2 separate regions of the Homo sapiens genome follow, and region 1 is linked to region 2. Evidence: fine-mapped expression QTL. A gene starts in region 2. The other region holds a variant in brackets. All regions are shown on one strand. Distances are between the middles of the regions.

Region 1 (5,365 bases), 24 kb before region 2:
GAGGCGTGAATGGAGCCAGTGTCCGGCCTGTACACGCCACCGCTGCACATCCCCAGGGAGAGACTCACCTCGCTCTCGCCCAGACGGAGGTCTCGCGGGCAGCAGATCCTTTAAGACCCTGTTTGAGGCTGGGGGGAAGGGGCCAGCCCGGAACCCGGAGACCTGGTTCTAATTCTTCCTCTGCCTGGTTTGCTGTGTGGCCTGGGAAAACCCTTGCCTGTCTCTGGGCCTGGAGGAGATGAGCATGAGGCCTCTCCCAGTCTCGACTTCCAGGCTCCAGATCTTCCCAGGCTTAGGTCAGCCCTGGCGCCAGCAGTGGCCTCTGTAGGAAGATGGGGGCTGCTTCCCTTGGGCTCCTCTGGCCCTGACCAGGGCTGAGCCCAGGGCCGGGGAAGCTCGCTTTCGCTCTCTGCCTAGAATGCCTTCCCTCCTCTCACTTGGCCAAGTTCTTGGCCTGAAGATGCTGCTCGGGTGCCTGGGAGCTCCTGGCTGGGAGGTCTCTGCATGTCCTGAGCACATCCCATGAGCAGCTGTAGGCCAGTGCTTAGGCTTTGTAGCTGTAATCCCACAGCTCCCGGTCACTGTGCGTCCTTGCTGCCTCCTTGCCCCCACCTCCCAGCCCCCACCACCATGAAGCCTGCATCAGACTGATGGGCTCGCTCATGCTAAGGTGTAAATGACTGACAGCCAGGCCCCAGCGGCCTTATGTTAAAAAGAGACTGTTAAAGAGAGGCTAGCTTTTCCTGGAGGCATCTGGATATGGAATTCCTTCCAGGAATTCCAGGAAAAAGAGGCCTGCAGCCCCATCCAGTATGCTGGGGCAGGTGTCCCCGGGGTAGATGTCCATGTAGACCGAGGAGTCAGGCCTGGCTCCAGTTCCCAGGCCCTCCTGCTTTCCCCAGCACCCTCCCTGCTGCAGCCCCCACGGAATTGCTCTAAGTGCCAGGTTTTTCTTCGGTGGTTCCCATGGCAGCAGCCACGGGGGCTGAGGGAGGAGACGGGGAAAGGGGAGGCAGGGCAGCTGTGTGCAGATGCTGTCCGCAGAAGGGGTCCAGGATGCCAGCTGGGGGTGTGGCTGGGCCACAGGCTGGGCCTCGAACCACTGGGCCAAGAAATAATAGTACCAGAAGTGGCAGTGGACGCTCGTTCCCCTACCTGCTTCCCACGTTAGCCCATTTAATGCTCACGCAACCACGGGAGGAAACAGCTTTTTCATCATTGTCATCCCTGCTTTACGGATGGAAAACTGAGGCTCGGTGGAATTAAGAGACTTGCCTAAGAGCTCACAGCCATTAAGGGGCAGAAGCAGAATTTGAACTCAGCAGCTGAGCTCTAGAGTTGCGCTCCTCACCACTATAGCACACTGCCTTGGCTGCGGCCACCCGGGTTCTCAGGTAGAAAAGCTGCTCCAGGGGCCAGGCGCGGTGGCTCATGCCTGTAATCCCAGCACTTTGGGAGGCCGAGGCCGGTGGATCACAAGGTCAGGAGATCGAGACCATCCTGGCTAACACGGTGAAACCCCGTCTCTACTAAAAATTAAAAAAAAAAAAGTTGCTGGGTGTGGTGGCGGGCGCCTGTAATCCCAGCTACTCAGGAGGCTGAGGCAGGAGAATTGCGTGAATGCGGGAGGTGGAGCTTGCAGTAAGCTGAGATTGCGCCACTGCACCCCAGCCTGGGTGACAGAGCGAGACTCCGTCTCAAAAAAAGAAAAACAAAAAAGAAAAGAAATGCTGCTCCAGCCCAACATCTCTCTTGCCTGGAGGCCTTTGTCCATGCTGCACCTCTCTCCAGAACCCCTGCCTACCTCCTGCACACCCAGCTGGCCCTGGCACTGTGTCTTAGCCCAGATATCGCCTCCTCCAGGAAGCCTTCCTTGTCAGTCCAACCCCTACCCTGCATTCTCAAAGCCACTGGATTTCCCAGAACACACTGTTGTCTTTGTTGTTTTGTAGGACTGTCTGCCCCTGGAGATTGGGAGGGCCCTGAAGGCGGGGTTGGGGTTCAAATTGTCTTTATGAGCCCAGCACTCAGCCTTAGGCTGTAAATACTGACACCAACACATACTGACAGCTGAGAATGGGCTGGTGACAGTGGCTGCTTTGATACTAACTTCCCTGGAGTTTATAGGCTGCATGTCTTGTGCGCCAGCAGCTAATAAAAACACTGGCAATTGTTATGCGCCAGTGCCCTGTGCTTCTGAATCCGTGCAATGGCACCATGAGGGAGGAGCTAGTGTTCCCATGTCACACATGAGGAAATGAGACCCAGAGAGGCAAAGTCACTTGCCAAAGGCCACACAGCTGGTGAGTGGCAGCACTGGGAGCTGGACCCAGGTCCCTCTCTGACTTCAAGTGAGCTGATCTTGGGGGAATTCCATGGTTTAATCTAGGATAGATGTCCAAAGAGGGGTCCCCTGTACCTGCGTGGTGTGCCTGCTTGTCCCGGCCCACCCTCTACCAGGAACTGAGGGCGAGTCCCTGTCCTCCCTCCTTGGGGCACCGTGCAGATCAGTGTGTCATTGTAAATGTGTGTGTGTGTGTGTGTGTGTGTGTGTTTACTGCCGGGCTCCTGGCCTCTGCAGCCAGCTTGCTGCAATTGACACATGACATGACCCCCGGCCCTCCCAGCTCATCCTCCCTGTCAGGGAAGGGAGGGGCCTGCCTGCCGGGGGGTGTTGCCTTTGCTGATTCGCCCTTCCTTGTGAGGTGACCACCCTGGAGGTGGCAGGCGGGGACGCCCAGGCCATGGGCACTATGCTGAAACCACTCCCCTGGCCTGCCACGGCTGGCCCTCCCTGTGGTCAGCCAGCTGGGAAGATTCAGGTCTTTAAAAAACTTTTGTAAATGTAATGAAAAATATGTGACCTGGAAATTAATTCCATCCAGATGCAGGGGTCTTTGTTGTGTGGGTGTGTGTTTTGTAAATGGCAGAAGA[T/C]AAAAAACCAAAGGCTGTTTTATGGAGCAAGATGTGAAGGCAGCCAAAGCCGCAGATCGCAATTTTTTCAGTGTATTTTGGGATATTTACTGATTCAAATTCTTTTGGTGTTTCCCAAGCAGTAAACAAAACCTCTGATGGAGGAATCTCACTGAACGTCTTCCCGGGGCACAGGAGCAGATCCGTCAGCAGGAAGAGCAGCTGCAGCCAGTGTGGGGATGGAAGTCCCCATCACCACCCCACCAGGCAGTCACATTTGAGGGTGGAGGAGGAGAGTTCCTGAGGCCAGCAGGCCAGAACGAAACATCAGCTCAGCTGGAAGATGGCCGATGGCCCCTCTGCTAACCTCGTCTAAAAAATGGGAGTATGGCCTGCTGGGTGCAGTGGCTCACACCTGTAATCCCAGCACTCTGGGAGGCCGAAGTGGGTGGATCACCTGAGGTCAGGAGTTTGAGACCAGCCTGACTAATACGGAGAAACCCCGTCTCTACTAAAAACACAAAATTAGCTGGGCGTGGTGGCAGGCACCTGTAATCCCAGCTACTTGAGAGGCTGAGGCAGGGGAATTGCTTTAACCCGGGAGGCGGAGGTTGTGGTGAGCTGTGATTGTGCCATTGTACTCCAGCCTGGGCAACAAGAGGGAAACTCAGTCTCAAAAAAAAAAAAAAACAAAAAACGGGAGTATGGAGCCCATTGGCAGGAGTGGCCTCGGGTCCACGAGACAAGGTGGATGACTCTGGCGACTAAGGTGTGGGCTCAAGACGTCAAGGCTGTGTGAATCCGAATCCCAGCTTGGCAAAATTCTCTCTGTGATTTTGGGAAACTGAGCTTCAGTTTCCTTGTCTGTGAAATGGGGATACCTAGACCTCCTACTTCATGGTGTAAGTGTGAGGCTGTGAGATAACACGAGGGCCTGGAGAGAGACAGACCCCTGGAATGCTGGCTCGTGTGATTAAGGCACAGAGAGAGTGCTTAATAGGTCTAGACCCAGAGGCAAAGTGCCTCGCCCAAGGTCACACAGCAGGATTGAGGTTGTCTAGGGCAGTGGCGGTGTGTGGGCTTTGGGCCTGGATATACCTGGTGAAGCAGAGTCTATTACTATCAAAATACCACTGCGCCTGGCTGAGGGTGTTCCCAATAGGGTCAATCCCTCTGTCTCTCCTCACTCCACTGGTAACAGGCTTGGACAAGTGACGTGCTTTGGCCAATAAAACATGAGCAAAAATGCTGTGGCCACTTCTGAGCAGAAGCTTAGAGACACGACGTGTGTGGCTTCACCACTGCCTTCTCCTTCTACAGCAGGGCCATCCTACCCGGGATAGGGGCTGCTTCTACGGCCTTGTCACAGAATGCTTTACACATAGAACCAAAGAGCCCAAGAAGGACCCAGAGTATGAGCCAAAAGGAAGCCTTCGCTTCTCAAGCTCCCGGGACCTCTGAGGGTGCTCCTCTCCTTGGCATAACTAAGCCCAGGATGACCGATACGGCTGACCCAAACCCTGTTGTGTCCCCTGTGTGCTGTGTGGCTGCAGGCAGGGCTTCACCCTCTCTGAGCCTCAGCCCTAGTGAACGGGGCTAGTGGAAGGTCCTTCATAGATAACAGATGGAGGGTGTCAGCATGAGTCAGGCCCCTTGTGTTGGAGGAAGTCCTCATAAGTGTTCATTCACTTCCTTCCCCTGGGGAAGGGCAAAGCTTTGGGGGTCAGAGGTTTCACGCGTGGCCAAGGGAGGGACCACCGTCCATGCCTGCACATGCTAGGCCTTTGGGTGCACTGTTCTGTCCTCCTAGAGTCCCTCCCCACCTCCCACCCCCTGCAGCCCATCTGCCTGGTGAAGGAATGCCCATGCATTGTGGGAGATGCCACTCCCAGCCACCTCCTCCAGAGAGACTTTCCCTGTCCCCAGAGAGAACTGACCACATCCCCTGCACGCCCTGGCCCACCGCGACCCCCACACGGAGGCTTCCACAGATCGCCCAGGGACCTGAGTCTGAGTCGCCATTGCTGGTGTCTGGCAGTGCCCTGGCATGGGAAGGAGGGCAGTACACTTCTCACCACGTCAGGGCCCCTGCCCCACCCCTCTCTCTGCAGTCTCTCTATGGCCCACGTGGCTGGAAGCGGGCATCTCGCCGTGGTAGTGGGCTTGGCGAGGCTGCTTCCTCTCACTCTGCCTTCCTGCCAGGCAGCCAGAACCAAAACAAACCATTCTGTTCCTCCAGAAAAATACAAATAAATAAATCATCAGAAGCGCTCTCCTTTTCCCTGTCACCAGCCCCGCCTCCTGGCTGTTTCACCAGCAGGGAGGGCTGTGGCGGGGCGGGGGTCGGGGGAAGGGCGATGGGGGAGGACCAGGAGCTCTTGCATCTGCATAAAGCCCCTTCCGGGAGTCACATTGTCCTAGTCCATCTAGACGGGCTGCTGGTGAGTGCTAA
Region 2 (5,365 bases):
TAGTTGGCACGGATTTCCCTCTGCCTTACCTGTTGGTTTACTGCTTCCCTGCCTAGTACAAGCTCTTCAAGGGTGGGAAATTTTGTGCCTCTGCATCGCCCCACCATGCTTTGCACACAGTAGGTGCTGAATAAATGTCTGCCGGCCATAGAGTAGGAACTCCATTAGCACTCGTTGGCCTGGTTTGTTTTATTGCAAAGAGCAAACTTCCAGATGGGAACAGCAGAGATCCAGGCAGGAGATCTCCTTCAACTGAGACATGGCCTCAACTTTTACGGCCACCACCGGGAGTGACCTTGGGCCATCAGCCCTGGGTGGAAGTCCCTTATTTTAGCCTAGAAACCCAACTCCAGGGCTCCAGTGGGACAGGTCCCCCTAAGTCCAGGGGAGCTGAGGTGGGCCGGCTCACACCCCCTGGGCCCTCACTGTCTCCCTACCAGGCGGGCATACCACTTGCTCCATGGGGCTGCTCTCAGGGTCAGGGCCACGAGGAGAAGCACACTGCCACGAAGGGTGCTGGCCTGGGTGCTGGAATTGGGAAGGCACGCAGGTGACCTCCAACGTGGAAACCTCTCCTATCTCCCCAGATCCCTCCCTCAGTGGATAACCATTCCAGTGTATCCCTAATAAGGCTCTTGTCCCTCACTGACACCTTTCCCTGCTGAATCCACCATGCCCCAGCCAGCTGGGCTCTGAGTCCAAGTTACAAACTCAGCTGTTTCAATGGTTCCCCCTTTTGAGCCCCTGGCCTGGGCCAGTTCTGCACCCATCAAAGTTCTCTGCATGTGCTACTGTCTCGAATGTTGGAAGTAGGCACCACTGTGATCCCATTTTACAGATGAGGAAGCTGAGGCCTGGGGAAAGGGGGACTTGAGCGAGAACACACAGCTGAAAGGGGCTTAGCTGGAAACCCCAACCCTGCTGAAGGCCCTAGATGCCCCACTGTCCTCCAGGGGGCCACACTGGGTCACAGGGCGAGGGGCTCAGGCCAGACTCAGTTTCCTCCCCTATTAAAGGGAGAGCTTGGCCGAGACAATCATGGGCCTTCTTCAGCTCAACAACCCTTTGTTTCTCTCTGTCCTCCTGAGTTATTTGGTTGCACCATGGAGATAAAACAACCCCTGGAAATCCCAGAGGCATTTTTTTCCCACTGGAGAAACACAAAAATATCACATGAAGAATGAATCACTTAAAGTGTCAGGGCAGGAAGAGGAAAGACAGGCATGGCGCTCGCCTCGGGGTGGGGGTGGCTCTGGGTTTCTCTTCAGCTCCCTCAGCCTCCCTGGTCCCCAGAACCCCTTCCTCACTGGAGTGAAGAGAAGCCAAAGCCCTAAGCCTCAGTTTCCCAATCTGTAAATGGGGACAACAAACCTGCCTTGAAGGCGTATTCGGAGGGGCCAATGCATTCATTTGTTCGTTCATTCATTCATTCATTCATCTATTCACTTATTTCGTACCGGTGTGATGCTGGACTGGGACTGCAGACTCTGAAGTGGGTCGAACAGACCCACCTCACCCCCGTGAAGCCAACCAAATGCCCTCCAGGCCATGACTAGGGCATCCTGAGAGCACTCCCTAGGCCATGCCGGACCCTCCCCCGAGCCTTTGGCCTTCTCTCCAACCCCTCTCTATGCAAGGCTCTTGACACAAGGACACTGAGGCACAGAGACGGTCAGCAACTTGCTCAAGGTCACACAGCAGGTAGGTAGTAGCACCAGCATCTGTGCACCCCCACAGGGCTCCCACCCCTCTAGATCAGAGCCTGCTCCCCATCTTGCCCCACTGGCATAGCCGTCACCCCGGCCCCTCCCATTCTTCTGTGACTAGGAGTCACTTAGCAGCCTTGCCTGGCTTCTCCCTTAGACCCAGTGCTTAGCCAGGGCAGGGACCCCAGGGTCAGCGTGAAGGAACAGAGGTGCCCCTGCACAGTGAGGACCTGGAAACCTCCACAGGCTGCTCCTTACCTGCCGAGCCCTGTGACTGAGGGATCAGAAGCCCCCTCCGCTGGCTGCGGTCTCCCTGCAGCTGCTGGCCTCTTCCCCGGCTCCTGGTTGCCACCAACCTTAAACCCCAATAAAAGGAGAGCAACTTGGTCGAGCCTTGTATAGGCAAAAGAGTGTTTTCCAGCGCAGGCTGGCCTCTGTGTGCTGACAAGAATTCAGTGTGCTCCTCAGGGCGGGGAGTGGGGCTAGGGCGCTGAGTCAGCCCTGCAGGAGTCCAGCTCCCGCCTGGGCCTAGGGCCGCCACCTCCCAGGCCCAGGATGGCAGCGGCTGCTCCCGCAGTCCCCACGCACTCCAGCCTCTGGTCTTACAGCCTTGTGCATCCTCAGAGCACCAGCAAGAGCCCCATTTTACAGGTGAGCAAACTAGAGACACTCCCTGTGAGATCCCACAGCTAGAAGCAGCAGGGGCTTAGACCCAGGGCACCGGGCTCCAGGTCCGCACCTCAGCAGATGCTTGGCACAATACATGTGGGTTCCCTCCCGTGGCCCTCAGTCTCTGTTGGGCAATGGAGGTCAGTGGCACCACTGCACAAGCCCCTCTGGCCAGCATGGCCCGGGGAGGGGTGTGGGTAAAACAAACGGTCCCCACACCAGCCCGGGGAGGAAGGGTAGCTGGGACCCGAGAGCCCACAGAGGGTGTGTGGCACCTGCCTGACTCCAAGCTGGGCTGATCTTCCTGCTGTTGCCCCCCTACCCCTGGCCTGTCCCCACCCAGCAGCAGAGGGTCCTCCCTGCCAGTAGGAATGGGGTGGGGATGGGGCAGGAACAGGGCGGGGGATGCCCACACCTGCCACTGTTCGAAACACATCAGTGGCTTCCATGACTGTCTGGACACAGCCCAGGGGCCTGGCTGGCCTCTGCAGCCACACTTCCTGGGTGCCAGGCACCCCCCCAGCCCATGGCCGTCTCCCACCCCTGGGCCTTCGTGCATCGTGGTACCTTGGCGGCGCCCTTGGCTGGCTTCTGGGTGGCATTTAAACGCAGCCATAAAGGAGGCCAGCCCTCCTCTGCCTCCCACCCATCCCTGGAAGCCTGCCCATCCTGAGCCAGGCCAGAAATAAACCTCCTTTTTCCATTCCTTTCGGTGGACAGAGAGCGAGTTCAGACTGGTCTGGGTGCCCCTCATCTAACCACGGTCCCAACAATGGCAGCCCAGAGCGATGGGTGCCACGATGGGAAACCAGGGGGCTATGGGCGCCCAGAGTGCCTGATGCAGCCTGACGGGGTAGGGGCCGGGAGTGGGGGTGGTATTTATTTAATCTTCATGATTAGGAGGGGCTGTGATTATCCCCAATTTACAGATGCGGAAACTGAGGTACAGAGTTTCAGTAACTCGTCCTGGGTCGCCTGGCTGGGGACTCAGACCAGGGGGTCTGGTGTGGACACCTGAAGGATGAGTCGGGCGGTGGGGCGGGGGTGGGGGTGGGGGAGTGTTCCTGGCAGAGGGAACAAGGCACACAAAGTTCCTCCTGCCTCTTGTCTGGGGCTCAGCATAGCAGCAGAGAAACAAAAGGGCTCTGAGCTTGGGGTTTGAACACGGGTTCAAGTCCCTTGCCGCTTCTCAGCTGTGTGATCCTGGGCATGTTTCTCTGTCTCTCTGAGCCTGGACTGCCCTGTGGATTTTGTTATAGTTCAAAGCAGACCTCCTGTGCACCAGATCTGGAACACCTATGACATAGAAAAGTATGGGTCCGCCAATGACATTTACTCCTTGCGATCCACCCTACGAGGCAGGAATTTTAAAAGTTCACCTTTGACAGAGGTTGGAAGCACAACAAAGACCAACCTGCCTGGCAGACCGGGGTGAGGGCTGCCTGGAGGGAAGGTGACCCCACCTCAGGGAGGCCACTGTGACCACATCCTCTTGCACAGTGGGTCTTTGCCTCAGCAACTGTGGGGGAGGAAAAGCACCAACATCCCCTCTCGGCCGAGGGGACCAGGCTCTAGAAAGCTCACAGCGGCGCTATGGAAAAACCTGGAGACAGCCCTGGAGACGGCCCAGTGGATGAATAGGAAAATGCATGGTGTTATGGCCAAACACCGGAACACTCTTCAGCTACCCAAATGCACTGCAGCCGCACAGAACATTACGGGGCATCTCAGCGCTATGAGGCTAGAGAGAAAGTAAAGTCTCCAAAGATGAAGTTCAGCACAGTACGCTTTCTAGAAGGCTAAAAAGAACTGTAAATAAAATGTTCTTTTTGAGAGTGCATCTGGCTATAGCAAGGCATACAGCGGGACGTGGGGTGAAGTGGGCCCTGCTTGGGAGCGCACAGGCTGACGTTCCTGCTCTCAGGCTGAGGGATGGGTCAAGGATGTTTCTTATATTATTAACAAACAAACAAGTAAATAAAGAAGTCTTGGCAAGGACTGCCGAGGGCGAATACCAGGAAGCAGGCAGAGACATGGGCCTGACTCCATGGCCTGGAGTCTGGAAAATAGAATAGAAAATCAAGGTTCAAAATATATGTAAAGAAAAATAATGATTACAGTACCCCCCAGCCCCCATCCATTGCACACAGGCCCACCCCTCTGGGCAGCTGAGACCCACACAGGGGCCTGGGTGGGGACTGCAGAAGCTGCTTTGGCCTGGCTGGGGGTCCCTGAGAAAGGAGCGTTTTTTTCCGGTTCACAGTCCCAGGCTGCTGGGTGTGGTGCCGGAACTGTCCAATTCCAGTAGGGAATCGGTGTGAATTCCCAGCCTCCTCCTACTGAGCCCACATACACCTCGTCCCTTTGAGACCCTCCCAGTTATAAACTCTCTGTGCCTCAGTTTCCCCATCTATAAACTGAGGACACCAGGCCATATAACATCCTCCTATATTTCCATGTTTGGAACTGAGCTGGTGGCCCCATGTCACCTGGGCCACAGAATCCCAATGCTGCTTCTTACGCTGTTGTTACCTGCCTGGCGGGTCACCTGCCTCGAGGAGGCTTGGTTTCTTCCTTTGTGGATGGTGCCATGCCTCCATCCTGGCCCCTCCAGGTCAAGGGGAGGATGACTGAGATGAAGAACACGCAGGGCCCTGCCTGAGCCACTGCTGGGGAGTTGCTGCCTCCTTCATAGGCTCACAGGCAGCAGTTCCCCGGCCTCAGGTGATTCCGCAATGGCAGGATGGGTCTCCATCCTGGCCCTCAAAGGATTCACAGTCCGGGGCAGGGAGGGGAGAGGCATTGCACAGTGTAAACCGCCCATATCGATGTGGAGCAGGGCAATGATAACCCCCCAGGGGCCAAGTGCTCTCTGCAGTGCCCGTGACAGACCTGGTCTCCCACACATCATGCTCCTGCAACAGGACATGTCATTCTGTGACTTGCCCAAGGTTACAAATAGCAGGCCCCCACGTGGAATCCAGATTTGG

Direction of the effects. Positions count from the first base shown, and alleles are read on the strand shown. Sizes are in standard deviations (SD) of each study's normalised expression.
For the expression in esophagus mucosa of the gene that starts at base 2,165 in region 2, C is the low allele of the variant in region 1 and T is the other (small effect, 0.29 SD a copy in GTEx).

Evidence for each region. PIP is the estimated chance that this variant, and not a neighbour inherited with it, causes the effect. A credible set is the group of variants that fine-mapping cannot tell apart.
Region 1: its variant is the best candidate, but not a certain one, in a credible set for the expression of SHISAL1 in esophagus mucosa (GTEx, PIP 0.55).

What each region holds. Positions count from the first base shown.
Region 1 is chr22:44,286,942-44,292,306 of GRCh38, forward strand. The region is part of intron 3 of SHISAL1 (shisa like 1); the gene reads right to left. Among named protein-coding and RNA genes, the nearest start is that of SHISAL1, 23 kb to the right of the region's middle. RefSeq lists an enhancer at 2,943-3,886. The variant T/C (reference allele first, on the strand shown) is at 2,935.
Region 2 is chr22:44,310,787-44,316,151 of GRCh38, forward strand. SHISAL1 (shisa like 1) reads right to left here and starts at 2,165. Exons shown (of 5, transcript NM_001099294.2): 1 at 1,965-2,165. LOC101927499 (a long non-coding RNA gene) reads left to right here and starts at 2,225. Exons shown (of 2, transcript XR_244444.3): 1 at 2,225-2,357; 2 at 3,635-4,213.